2 linked regions of the Homo sapiens genome follow. The protein of the gene in region 2 interacts with the protein of the main gene of each other region in a biochemical or structural test. Each region holds a gene or a part of one and is shown on either strand. Other genes may lie near its edges.

The links.
Region 1: the proteins of NBPF11 (region 2) and CBY1 form a complex in vitro, tested with the Homo sapiens proteins (one study listed by BioGRID).

The regions. Positions count from the first base shown.
Region 1 is NC_000022.11:38,659,622-38,666,646, forward strand, and holds part of CBY1 (protein chibby homolog 1), read left to right. Parts: intron 1-5,924; exon of another isoform or gene 5,925-6,064; intron 6,065-7,025. UniProt on the Homo sapiens protein: Inhibits the Wnt/Wingless pathway by binding to CTNNB1/beta-catenin and inhibiting beta-catenin-mediated transcriptional activation through competition with TCF/LEF transcription factors.
Region 2 is NC_000001.11:148,142,280-148,149,304, forward strand, and holds part of NBPF11 (NBPF family member NBPF11), read right to left. Parts: exon of another isoform or gene 6,882-7,025; intron 4,643-6,881; exon of another isoform or gene 3,787-4,642; intron 1,408-3,786; 5' UTR 1,136-1,407; intron 1-1,135.

The DNA.
Region 1 (7,025 bases), on a different chromosome or scaffold from region 2:
GGAGGCCAAGGCGGGCAGATCACAAGGTCAGGAGATCGAGACCATCCTGGCTAACACGGTGAAACCCCATCTCTACTAAAAATACAAAAAATTGCCCAGGTGTGGTGGCAGGCGCCTGTAGTCCCAGCTACTCGGGAGGCTGAGGCGGGAGAATGGTGTGAACCTGGGAGGCGGAGCTTGCAGTGAGCCGACATCGCACCACTGCACTCCAGCCCGGGCGACAGAGTGAGACTCTGTCTCAAAAAAAAAAAAAAAAAAAAAGAATGTGCCACAAATTATTTGGCTACACCCAAATTGTTTGGATTGTTTCTTATTTTTTACTGTTATCAACAATAGAGAACATTGGGTGTGAGCATGTCCAAGTCTTTCTGGAGTGTAAAATTTTAGAAGTAGAGTTGCTGTCCAAAAAGTGTACACATTGACAATTTTGCCAAGTTTTGAGTGCCCTTGAAAGAATTATAGCATCTTCTGATTCCACCAGTAATAACAGTGTCTTTTTCTTCACATCCTCATCAACCATGGGTATTATTCATCTTTTTAATTTTTGCCAATATGATGAGTGAAAATGCATTTTTTTAACTTTTTTTTTTTGAGATGGAGTGTTGCTCTGTCACCCAGGCTGGAGTGCAGTGGCGTGATCTTGGCTCACTGCAACCTCTGCCTCCCAGGTTCAAGTGATTCTCCTGTCTCAGCCCCCCGAGTAGCTGGGATTACAGGCTCATGCCACCGCGCCTGGCTAATTTTTGTGTTTTTAGTAGAGACGGGGTTTCACTGTGTTGGCCAGGCTGGTCCTGAACTCCTGACCTCAAGTGATCCACCTGCCTCGGCCTCCCAAAGTGCTGGGATTACAGGCATGAGCCACCACACCAGGCCGAAAATGCATCTTTTAATGATGTGCCTCACATGTTACTAATACAAGGATAAGTATATACATGTGTATATAGACACACACACACCATATGTATATACACGTATACCATATATGTGTGTGTACAGGTACATACACACACACACACACACACACGCAGACGCATATACACCTTCAGCCAACTGATCATGGCTATGCACCTTGGGAAAATTGGGAAACTACCCCAAACCCTAGCATTTTCATCTTTATTTATTTATTTATTTTTGAGACGGAGTTTCACTCTTGTTGCCCAGGCTGGAGCGCAATGACACGATCTCCCTCACCGCAGCCTCCACCTCCTGGGTTCAAGCGATTCTCCTGCCTCAGTCTCCAGAACTTTATTCATGGATATTCCTATTTTATTTTTGTTCTGTCCTTTACATAAGATTACAGACATAAGATTAATGCTTTTCCCTCTTCTAACCTCTTTCTCTTCTCCAGCAGAAACAGTGCCAGGGCCTTACAATGTGTTTTGGATGGTGACATAGCATCAACCCCCCTCTGCATCTTGGTCCCCACCCCGTCCCCTCCACTACCAAGCTGGAAGCACTCTGGTTTGTCCAAGTTCTAAAGTGCTGTGCCCAGGCCCAAATGCCATCCCCTAAGTTGCTGGTCTATGATTCTTTTTATTTTTATGATTTTATTTTAGTTTATTTTATTTTTGAGACAGAGTCTCGTTCTGTCACCCAGGCTGGAGCGCAGTGGTGTGTTCTCGGCTCACCGCAACCTCCGCCTCCCAGGTTCAAGCGTTTCTTGTGCCTCAGCCTCCCAGGCAGTTGGGATTACAGGTGAGCACCACCACTCCCGGCTAATTTTTGTACATTTTTAGTAGAGACAGGGTTTCACCATGTTGGCCAGACTGGTCTCGAACTTCTGACCTCAGGTGATCCACCTGCCTTGGCCTCCCAAAGTGCTGGGATTACAGGCGTGAGCCACTGTATGATTGTTTTTAATTCAAACACGTAACTACCAGGAAAGCTGTCATGAGCACATAACCCCAAATACCTTCATTTATTTATAAATTACATATACATATACTTATGTATTGTATGTTTTACATACATTCCAAAGAAGCTTCTTAACTTTTATCATTAATTTTAGTGAGATCAATTTCTCCCTTAATGAAAACAGCCTGGAAGTTTTTTTTCCTGTTCTCATTGGATACATATCTTGCTGATTGTGATGGATTCATACTTTGAATTCTCTTTTAATGATAATGGATATAAAACCTTGTTTCAAATAGTCTTGAAAAGATACCAACCCCTCCTCCTGCCTTTTTTGGCCCATTTCTTGTCAGATCCAGTTAACCCGTTACTGCTTTTATTTCATAATGTAGTGAAGGAAGACCTTACGCCCAGGAGGAGCAGTGAGAGGTCGGCTGTTTTCTTTTTGCTCACTTGTGCCGTCATTGTTGTTCTCTTCAGTCTATGGCTTCTTAGAAGGATTCTTTGTAAGCTGTGTGCGTGATATAAATTAAAATTGAATAATATAGGCCAGGCGTGGTGGCTCAGGCCTGTAATCCCAGCACTTTGAGAGGCCAAGTTGGGCCAGTCGCTTGAGCTCAGGAGTTCGTGACCAGCCTGGGCAACATGGCGAAACCCCGTCTCTACAAAAGACACAAAAATTAGCTGGGCCTAGTGGCGCGTGCCTGTGATCTCAGCTACTTGGGAAGCTGAGGTGGGAGAATCGCTTGAACCTGGGAGGTTGAGGCTGCAGTGAGCCGAGATCACGCCACTGCACTCTAGCCTGGGCAACAGAATGAGACTCTGTCTCAAAAAAAAAAATAAATAAATAAATAAAATAAAAAATTGGGTGATATATGGGGAAAAAAAGAACACTAACCCCTGTTTTACATCATATACAAATATTAATTCAAGATGAATTATAGTCACAAATGTGAAATGCAAACAATAATATTACCAGAAGTTAACAGAAAATATCATCATGACCTTGGGGTAGGCAATTTTTTTTGGGGGGCGGGGGACAGGATCTCACTCTGTCACCCAAGCTGGAGTGCAGTGTCATAATCTCAGCTCACTGCAACCTCTGGCTCCTGGGCGCAAGCAATCCTCCCACCTCTGCCTCCTGAATAGCTGGGACCACAGGCGTACACCACCATGCCCAGCTAATTTTTTGTATCTTTGGTAGAGACAGGGTTTTGTTTGCCATGTTGCCCAGGATGGTCTTGAACTCCTGGACTCAAGTTATTTGCCTGCCTCTGCCTCCCAAAGTGCTAGGATTTATAGGCATGAGGCACCATACCCAGCCTGGGGTAGGCAAACATTTTAAAAATACAATACAAGCACTAATCATTAAGAAATAATAATAAATTGGGCTGGGTGCAGTGGCTTATGCCTGTAATCCCAGCACTTTGGGAGGTCAGGAATTCAAGACCAGCCTGGCCAACATGGCGAAACACCATCTCTGCTAAAAGTACAAACATTAGTTGGGTGTGGTGGCAGGCGCCTGTAATCCCAGCTACTCAGGAGGCTGAGGCAGGAGAATTGCTTGAACCCAGGAAGCAGAGGTTGCAGTCAGCTGAGATCACATCACTGCCCTCCAGCCTGGGCGACAGAGTAAGACTTGATCTCAAAATAAATAAATAAATAAATAAATAATTGGATTTCATTATAATTAAGAACTTCTGGCTGGGAGCTGTGGCTCACACCTGTAATCTCAGCACTTTGGGAGGCCGAGGCAGGTGGATCACGAGGTCAAGAGATTGAGACCATCCTGGCCAACATGGTGAAACCCCGTCTCTACTAAAAATACACAAATTAGCTGGATGTGGTGGTGCGTGCCTATAGTCCTAGCTACCTGGGAGGCTGAAGCAGGAGAATCGCTTGAACCCGGGAGGCGGAGGTTGCATTAAGAAAGCAAAAAGAGGCCGGACGCGGTGGCCCACACCTGTAATCCCAGCACTTTGGGAGGCTGAGGTGGGTGGATCACCTGAGGTTGGGAGTTCGAGACCAGCCTGACCAACATAGAGAAACCCTGTCTCTACTAAAAATACAAAAATTAGCCGGGCGTGGTGGCGCATGCCTGTAATCTCAGCTACTTGGGAAGCTGAGGCAGGAGAATCACTTGAACCCGGGAGGTGGAGGTTGCGGTGTGCTGAGATGGCGCCATTGCACTTCAGCCTGGGCCACAAGAGCGAAACTCTGTCTCCAAAAAAAAAAAAAAAAAAGGAAAAAAAAAGAAAGCAAAAAGAGGTCGGGCGCAGTGGCTCATGACTGTAATTCCAGCACTTTAGGAGGCGGAGGTGGGTGGATCACTTGAGGTCAGGAGTTCGAGACCAGCCTGGCCAACATGGCAAAACCCCATCTCTACTAAAAACACAAAAATTAGCTGGGTTTAGTGGCAGGTGTGTGTAATCCCAGCTACTTGGGAGGTTGAGACAGGAGAATCTCTTGAACCTGGGAGGCAGAGGTTGCAGTGAGCCAAGATAGCACCACTGCACTCCAGCCTGGGTGACAGAGCGAGACTGTGTTTCAAAAAAAAAAAAGAAGGAGAAAGCAAAAAGAAAAAAGTGGGAGAAGATATTTTCAGTACTGTACATATATACAGTAGTGAAACTTGTATCCAGCGTATATAAATACCCTTACAAACCCTTACAAAATGAACATGATAGACAGCTCAATTTTAAAAAATGGCAAAAGAGGGCTGGGCGCGGTGGCTCATGCCTATAATCCTAGCACTTTGGGAGGCTGTGGCGGGCAGATTGCTTGAGGTCAGGAGTTCGAGACAAGCCTGGCCAGCATAGCGAAACCCTGTCTCTATTAAAAATACAAAAATTAGCTGGGCATGGTGGTGTGTTCCTGTAATCCCAGTTACTCGGGAGGCTGAGGCAGGAGAATCACTTGAACCTGGGAGGCAGAGGTTGCAGTGAGCTGAGATTGTGCCACTGCACTCCAGCCCGATGACAGAGGGAGACTCCATCTCAAAAAAAAAAAAAAAAAGCAAAATACATGAATAAGCATGCCACAAAAAAATCCATATATGTCCAAGGAGTATGTTAAATGATGCTCAACTTAATTAGTTATTTGGGAAAAGCAAATTAAACAATGCAACACCATTACATACCTGCCAGAATGGAAAAGATGAAAAAGAAAGTGCCAGATATTGACAAGGATCTCTTGCAAACTACAGATAGGAGTCTAAATTGGTACAATGACTTTGGAAAACCATTTGGCAGAATCTGTTAAAGCTAAATATATGAATGCTCTGTGACTCTATAGTTATACCCCTAAGTATGGAACCAGAAAAGTGTACATATGCATGTAGATATACATGCTCAAGTCTTATGTTCTTAGCAGTAGTTTTTTTTTTTCTTGAGACAGGGTCTTGCTCTGTTGCCCAGACTGAAGTGTGCAGTGGTGATCACAGCTCACTGCAGCCTCAAACTCCTGGGCTGAAGCAATCCTTCCACCTCAGCCTCCTGAGTAGCTAGGACTACAAGGGTACACCACCACGCCTGGCTGATTTTTCAATTTTTTGTAGAGATGAGGTCTCATTATGTTGCCTAGGCTGGTCTTGAACTCCTGGCATCAAGTGATCCTCCTGTCTTGGCCTCCCAAAGTGCTAGGATTACTGGCATAAGCCACCATGCCTGGCCTAGCAGCACTATTTTTGGTGGTCAAAAACTGGAAACAGGCCGGGTGTGGTGGTTCATACCTGTAATTCCAGCATTTTGGGAGGCTGAGGCAGGCAGATCACGTGAGCCCAAGAGTTCAAGACCAGACTAGGCAACATGACGAAACTCCCATCTCTATTAAAAATGCAGAAAATTAGCCAGCATGGTGGTGCGTGCCTATAGTCCCAGCTACCCATGAGGCTGAGATGGGAGGATCACCTGAGCCTGGGAGGTTGAGGCTACAGTGAACAGAGATGGTACCACTGCACTCCAACCTGGGGGACCAGAACGAGACCCTGTCTCAAGAAACACAAAACAAAACTGCAAACAGCTCAAATGTCCATCTTCTGTAGACAAGTAAATTTTGCTGTGTTTATACAATAGAATATTATCCAGCAATGCAAATGAACAAACTATAACTACACACAGCTGCATGGATAAATGTCAGAAACATGACGTTGAGTGTGAGAAGCCAGATGCAAACGAGGACTCACTGTGCAATTCTGTGCATGTACAGTGGCCAGGTGAGGCTTATGGAGTGCTGAAATGCTCTGTATCCCAATCTGGAGGGTGGTTTTAAAAAAATGTTTTGAGCCAGTGCGTTGGTTCACACCTGTAATTCCAGCACTTTGGGAGGCCAAGGTGGGCAGGTCACTTGAGGTCAGGAGTTCGAGACCAGCCTGGCCAACATGGTAAAACCCTGTCTCTACTAAAAATACAAAAATTAGCTGGGCATGGTGGCACACACCTGTAATCCCAGCTATTTACAAGGCTGAGGCACAGAGCAGGGCTCTGTCTCAAAAAAAAAAATCATAAATAAAAAATAAAATTTAAAAAATACTTGATTTTAATTTTTTTAGAGATGGGGGTCTCGCTGTGTCACTCAGGCTGGTCTTGAACTCTTGGGCTCAAGCAATCCTCTCACCTTGGCCTCCCAAAGTGCTGGGATTTCAGGTATAAACCACCACGCCTGGCCCTGGAGGGTGGTTATACTTGTGTAGTAAAAACTCATGAAACCTTACACTTATGATTTGTGGTAGACTTTTCTGTATTAATGTTATATATATATATATTTTTTTTTCTTTTTTAACCTTTTTTTGGTAGAGACGGGCCCTGCTAAGTTGCCCAGGCTGGTCTTGAACTCCTGTGCTCAAGTAATCCTCCCTCCCTGGCCTCCCAAAGTGCTAGGATTACAGGTGTGAGCCACTGCTCCCAGCCTAAATAAAAAGTTTGCTTCTCCCCTCCTTTTCTCCCCAAAAACCAGGGTGTTATCAGGAAATCTACTTAACTAGGCCTAGGTGAATTGCAATAGGTTGCATTATGCTAAAAGCAAATGTACAGGTTGGGGGGGTGTTGTTGTCAGCTCCGCCATGTCGTGGACCTGCCCCCTTTTCAGGACACCTCACGTCACCTTCCATAACAGAACAGGTAACGTGACATATGAGGTGCACTGTTGACAAGTGACACTGGTGACAAGTGAGGAGC
Region 2 (7,025 bases):
AGAGACGCACTACTGTAAAACTATATACTGTTTCCATGGGGTACAACCCCTTCTTCCTCCTCTGAAACACATTATTCCTCTGGCCCGCTGTTGCCAGAGACACTGAGTCTTGTCTTTGGATAAGTTCTGGTGCCCCAAAGAATGAGATGAGACAGTGGATCCCAGAACACCAGGCCGCAACCTTCCCTGCTGCTCCTTGTCCACTCCAGAAGCTGCCCGGCTGCAGGTGGGGGCCTCAGCCCCTGGGTCTGACATCGTCCATTTGTCATTCTCACTGGACTTCCCTCCTTGCACTGGCTCCCACTCCCCCAGGACCTGGTGGGCAGCCACGTGAGAAGGATACAAACAGGCCATGCCCCTTTCTTTCTCCCCCTCTCAATGCCTGCAGTGGTGGGTTCCGTGGGGTAGTGACCTGAGATTTACTCATTATGGGGCCTCTAGCCCAGAGCAGGGCATGGTACCTAATAGTCACCCCATGAATGGTCAGTGAAAGAAGGCGTCCACCACAAGGTCCTGGGGAACCAAGAATTCCACTGTGGCCCATAAATTCTAAGTCCTACAGGATTCTGGAATGGGAGATGGGATCGGCCTTCAAAAGTGGTCTCTCTTTTAACCCATTATACTGGCAACTGAGCCATGTTTCCCCATCCTGGACACATCTAGAGGGCACTGCCTAAAACCACACACATCTCCCCACCCAGGACAGTGCAGAGCCTTAGCCTGGGGGATGCGGGTGGACAGGGAGGGGGTGAGCCATGAAAGCTGAAGAGGAGAAAGCAGGTGAAAGAGGACAGCAGGGTGGAAACAGAGAGAGAAATGGGGGCAGAGAATGGGGGGTGAGAGGGGAAGAGAGAGGAGAGGGATGCAGATCTAGCTACCAAGGAAAAGTCCTGAAGAGAACATGTCCTCTCCTGAAGTAAAATCACTTTCACCCGACCATGGCACTGCAAGTCCAGGGCGGCACACGCTGTGAATATTTGTTCATTCATTTAACATATATTTATTTAATATCTGTTTGATGCCAGGCAAGGCCCTGTGATGTTTAGGGCCCTTGGCATCTTCCCTTCACATCTGAGTCATAATAGAAAGAGGACTCTCTGACCCCATCGAGCTGGCAATGCCTCAGGATTTTTACCTGTTGGATCTGGCAGCTCTTCATGTCGGCCCACACCATGTGAAGCTGCTCTTGGTGCACTGAATGGGTAAGTTTCTACATCGGTGCCTCGGAGAGTCCACCAGAAGCCCTGGACAGTGGGAGTTGGTGGCACCCCCAGTGTGGAGGCCAAGAGCACACAGCACTGAAGCTCCAGACATCCTCAGGAGAATGATAAGGGACAATCTGCTCATGAGAGCCTGGGTCACCAGGAACCTTTGCCTGGGTCTAAACAGGATTTGCCTTCAGAATGCCTATGAGATAAAAGAGAGAAATCAAGGTTAACATTGAGATTTGGGGCTTGGGCAACTTGAAGGGTGAAGCTGCCATTTACCGAGACTGGGAAGACCCAGGCAGGAGCAGATTGAAAGGTGGTGGGGAACTAGAGTTGGTTGGGTTTCTGTCATATGTAATCAACAGTCCTCACCAGCCTGTGCAACATAGTAAGACCCCATCTCTGAAAATAAAAAATGAGAAATTAGCCGAGCATGGTGGCGCACACTTGCACTCTCAGCTACTCGGGAGGCTGAGGCAGGAGGATTCCTTGAGCCTTGAGTTAGAGGTTAGTGAGCTATGATGGCACCACTGCACTCCAGCCTGGGGGGAAAAAAATAGAGTTCTGACTAAATATTTGAGTAGCCAGGGAAGTTTTCACAAAGTAAGGAATATTTGAGGTAGATCTTAGTGAACAAGAATTCGATTCTTTCTGTTAGGGAATTAAGAGTGTGTGGGCGTAGTTAATGCTTCTTTGGAATCTCATCTACTGGTCTATCTGGTCTATCTGTACCCGTATATTCTACAGGCTGTCTCACTGAGCTTTCACTAGGTTATGCTGCAGTAACAAAAGCCCCAAAATCTTAGCAGCTACACATACAAAGGTTTATTTTTCATTGGCATTTCCTTTTATGGCAGCTTGACTATGATTCTGCTCTATACAAGCTATTTTATTTGTTAGATGGTGAAAACCGTGACACTTGGAGATTGCTGAATATGGTATTAGTATGTTCATTCATTCATTCATTTAACAAATATTTATTCAATATCTGTTTCATGCCAGGCGAGGTCAAGTACTGAGAATACAGTGGTGAATAAAAGAAACAAAATCTCTAATTTCCAGGAGCTTATATTGAAAATGAGATTGAACACATACAAAAAAAAATAATAACAATAATGAATACTATATTTACAAATAATAGCTGTAAGAGATTTTAGTACCTGTTTTAAATTAGAAAAATATAAAAATTATTAAAACTAAAATGGCCAGATGTGATGGCTCACACCTGTAATCCCAACACTTTGGGATGCCAAGGTGTGACAATCAACTGAGCCCAAGTGTTTGAAACTAGTCTGGGCACCACAGGAAGACCCTGTCTACAAAAAATAAAAAATTAGCTGGGCATGGTGGTGCATGCCGTAATCCCAGCACTTTGGGAGGCTGAAGCAAGCAGACTACTTGAGCCCAAGGGTTTGAGACCAACCTGGGAAACATGTTGAATCCCCATCTCTACAGAAAATACAAAAATTAGCCAGGCATGGTGGCACACGCCTATAGTCGCAGCTACTCAGGAGGCTGAGGCAGGAGGATTGCTTGAGCCAGGAGGTGGAGGTGGCAGTGAGCTGAGATTATGCCAACACACTTCAGCCTGGGCAACAGAGTAAGACCCTGTCTGAAAAAAAAAAATGCAAAAACTAAAATAAAATTGCTATAAGGTTAATATAGAAAAGTGTGTTCATATTCTTAGGCTAGGCATTGATTTCTTTTTTCTTTCTTTTTTTTTTTTTTTTTTTTTTTGGTACAAGACAGAGTCTTGCTCTGTCAACCAGGCTGGAGTACAGTAGTGTAATCTCGGCTCACTGCAACCTCCGCCTCCTGGGTTCAAGCAATTCTCCTGCCTCAGCCTCCTGAGTAGCTGGGATTACAGGTGCCCGCCACCACATCCAGCTAATTTTTGTATTTTTAGTAGAGACGGGGTTTCACCATGTTGGCCAGGCTGGTTTCATACTCCTGACCTCGTGATCCACCTGCCTAGGCCTCCCACAGTGCTGGGATTACAGGCATGAGCCACCGCACCTGGCCAGGCATTGATTTCTTAAACAGGACACAATAAGCAGTAACCATAAAGGAAAAGATTGATAAAGTATATTTCATTAAAATTAAGATACTCTGGCCGGGTGCGGTAGCTCATGCCTATAATCCCAACACTTTGGGAGGCCGAGGCAGGTGTCACTTGAGCCCAGGAATTCCGTATCGGGCTATGCAACATGGCAAAACCCCATGTCTAGTAAAAATACAAAAAACAGCTGAGCATGGTAGTGGTCTCCTGTAGGTCCCAGCTACTTGGGGACTGAGGCAGGAGCATCACCTGAGCCTTGGGAGGTCGAGGTTGCACTAAGCTGTGATTGTACCACTGCACTCCAGCCTGGGCAACAGAGTGAGATCTTGTCTCAAAAAGAAAAAAAATTAGAGAATCTCCATTCATGAAAAAACGTCATTAAAAGAGTGAAAACACAAGCTGCAGATTGAAAAAAGAGAAATGCAATCCATATATATCCTAGAAAGGATGCATATCCAGAATAAAGTATTACAAATCAACAGAAAAGCATATCAATGAAAACTGGATAAAAAGATTTAGGGGCAGGGGTGCGGAGGGACCGACGGACGCACGGGCGGGCGGCCGGGAGCCATGGAGCGCGGCCCTGGGGCCCGGGGGCGCGGGCCGGGGTGGGCTTCCCACGGCACGACATGGAGACCTGTGGTTGCGAGGCTCCCTGGGGCTCGGCTTGGACCGCGATGGGGCTGGGCCCTGGCCTCCTAACGGGGCTGCTGTCTGGGGCGGTAGCTGGGGGGGCGCTCTCCCCCCTGCCCGCGACTCGGAGCACCCCACCCCTCCCCTGCCGGGCCAGGCCGGGCGGCGTTGTTGGCGGGGGCCCCGGTGGAGGCCCGGCCCGGGCGGCGCCCGCCATGAACGGGCTGTCGCTGAGTGAGCTCTGCTGCCTCTTCTGCTGCCCTCCCTGCCCCGGCCGCATCGCTGCCAAGCTCGCCTTCCTGCCGCCGGAGGCCACCTACTCCCTGGTGCCTGAGCCCGAGCTGGGGCCTGGTGGGGCCGGGGCCGCCCCCTTGGGGACCCTGAGAGCCTCCTCGGGCGCACCCGGGCGCTGGAAGCTGCACCTGACGGAGCGTGCCGACTTCCAGTACAGCCAGCGCGAGCTGGACACCATCGAGGTCTTCCCCACCAAGAGCGCCCGCGGCAACCGTGTCTCCTGCATGTATGTTCGCTGCGTGCCTGGTGCCAGGTACACGGTCCTCTTCTCGCACGGCAATGCCGTGGACCTGGGCCAGATGAGCAGCTTCTACATTGGCCTGGGCTCCCGCCTCCACTGCAACATCTTCACCTACGACTCCTCCGGCTACGGTGCCAGCTCGGGCAGGCCTTCCGAGAGGAACCTCTATGCCGACATCGACGCCACCTGGCAGGCCCTGCGCACCAGGTGAGGGCGACCCTGGGGGCAGCTCAGCCTGGGCACACCCAAGAGGGGACCAGGCGGGGGGCCGGGGGGCGGGCTTCCCTGGGAGGAAGGTGGGCGGCCCTGCAGGAGGGGAGCCACAGTGGATGCACAGGGCCAGAGAGCCGGACAGGCGAGCTTGGGTGTGCAGGTGCCGCCTCCACATGGCTGAGGTGTGGCCAGGCGGTCCTCCCACACCCTGGCCTGTGGAGCCAGGCTCCCTGGGAACCCCTGGCCTGAGGATGGGAAGGGGCTGAGCTTGTCACAGGGGTGTGGATGCCACCTGGCGGGAGGGAGTGGGTGGTGGTCTGGGGGTCTGTGCACGTGTGGCTGGGAGCCCATCGGCTGAGGCAGCACTTGGGGCCAAGTGAGGCGAGGCTGCTGCATCCAGGTCCGGAGGACTGGCCCATGAGGCCCTGTGGCTGCGGAGCTTGGCCATCCTGGGGCAGGGCCTACAGGGTAAGGTGCAGACCCGCAGCACACATCCGAGGTCTGGGCCAGCCTCGATTCCAGATCCAGCCCTCCTAGTCATCCACGTCCCCAGCCCTGTGCTTGCCTGGGCCCTTCACCGGTGTTTGAGCAGCGCCCGGGCCAGTGCTGCTTTGGACGAGGAGACCCGGCTGGGCCTCTGGTGGCTTTTCCTGCTCGCCATCCACTGGGCCTGTCTCGTCCTGGCCCTGCCCAGCCCACTGGTCTGACCTGCTCCCGCAGGGACCAGGCACAGCTCTGAGAAGTCAGAGGCCCTAGGGAGGTGGGGTCGTCGTTGCCTTGGTGATATGCAGGCAGTCCCTGCTGTGGGCCTGGGAGCTGGTCCCCTGGCACCACCCTGGCTCCAGGGGCCTCCCGGCAGTTGTGGGACGCTGACACCAATCACCACTTCATGCGGCTTCCTCGGCCCCTCCTGTCTCTACTGCCTGGGCCACTGGCAGAGTCACACCTGCCATGGCCAGCTCTGAGCTCTGTCTGCTCGGCCATCTGTCCTGCTGCCCCTTTGTCCTGCAGGAACCTAGGCCCAGAGCCATGAGGGGGAGGCCAGAGCGTGCCCAGGGCCTCCACTGGGGATGTGTCCCGTTCGTTTGAGTGGTGACATCCAGGTGGCAGCTGGGGGCTCCTGCCTGTAGCAGGTGGCAGGGCTGGGCTGGCTCAGCACACTACTGACCATGGCTGCCAGGGAGCAGGCCGGGGAGGCCGAGGCAGAGCTGGGGCCACAGGCACCAGCCAGGCAGCATCCTTTGGGGCATGGGTGAGTGGCGAGCTGTGGAGTGCTGCCAGGAGGCTGGGATTCCAGGCCAGGGACGGGGACAGCCCTGCTGGTGGAGTCCGAATGCCAGGCAGAGGGGACGCACACCTGCCCATGCTCCTGCCTTGCAAGAGGGCGTCTGCCTGGGATCAGAGCCTAGAGCGTGTGGGAGGAGAGTTGTGGGGTCCCGGCATGGGCAGGGTGGCAGGTGGGTCCCGCGTGCTTGGGACTGGGCACGAGGAGGCCTTGTAACTGGTGCTGGATCAGCTGGGTCAGGGGCCGCACACCAATGACCTGGGGGTGAGGGTGCCCCTGGGTGGGAGCTGGTGGTGCTGAGGTGGCCGAGGACTTGTCCACTCCCAAGGGAAGGTGCTGGTGGGAGGGGGTGCCACCTCCGCAGCCACCACCCTCGATGCTGACCTGGGTTGCACTGGCATCTCACTGGGCGTGGGGACTCCGAGAGTCCAAAATTGGGTGGAGACATTTGGGGACACAGCTGCCTGAATTCCTCATGGCCAAGGGGGTGGGCAAGGGCTGCAGGGAGGAAGAGTGTCCGCTGTCCTGGCCAGTGCACCAGGAACGGCTTTCTAACCCGGGCAGGAAGGTATGAAGCATTCAGGATGTGGGGGCCACACAGTTCCCAGTGTGCACCTAGGGGTGACCAGGAGGAGGAGAGGCGCCAGGGCCTCCCTTACCCCCGCCCCAGGGGCACTCCGTAGGCAGGATCCCTGCAGATCCTAGCTAGGAAACGCCAGTGAACGGCAGCGCAGGGAACGGGGCGGGGCCGCTGGCTTCGCCCACCGCCACGGTGTTGGGGGCTGGGGGTGGCCCTCGGGACTGGTGTGGAGCCTGAGCCTGACCCACTGACTTGGCTGAGTGGGGAGACTGGAGGGTCGCATCCGGAGCTGGGCCCGGGGACGCCCGCTGGTGGGAAGGGTGCGCGCGCGTTGGAGGCCGCGGCTGACCCTGCTCCGGCGCCGCCAGGTACGGCATCAGCCCGGACAGCATCATCCTGTACGGGCAGAGCATCGGCACGGTGCCCACCATGGACCTGGCCTCGCGCTACGAGTGTGCCGCGGTGGTGCTGCACTCGCCGCTCACCTCGGGCATGCGCGTCGCCTTCCGCGA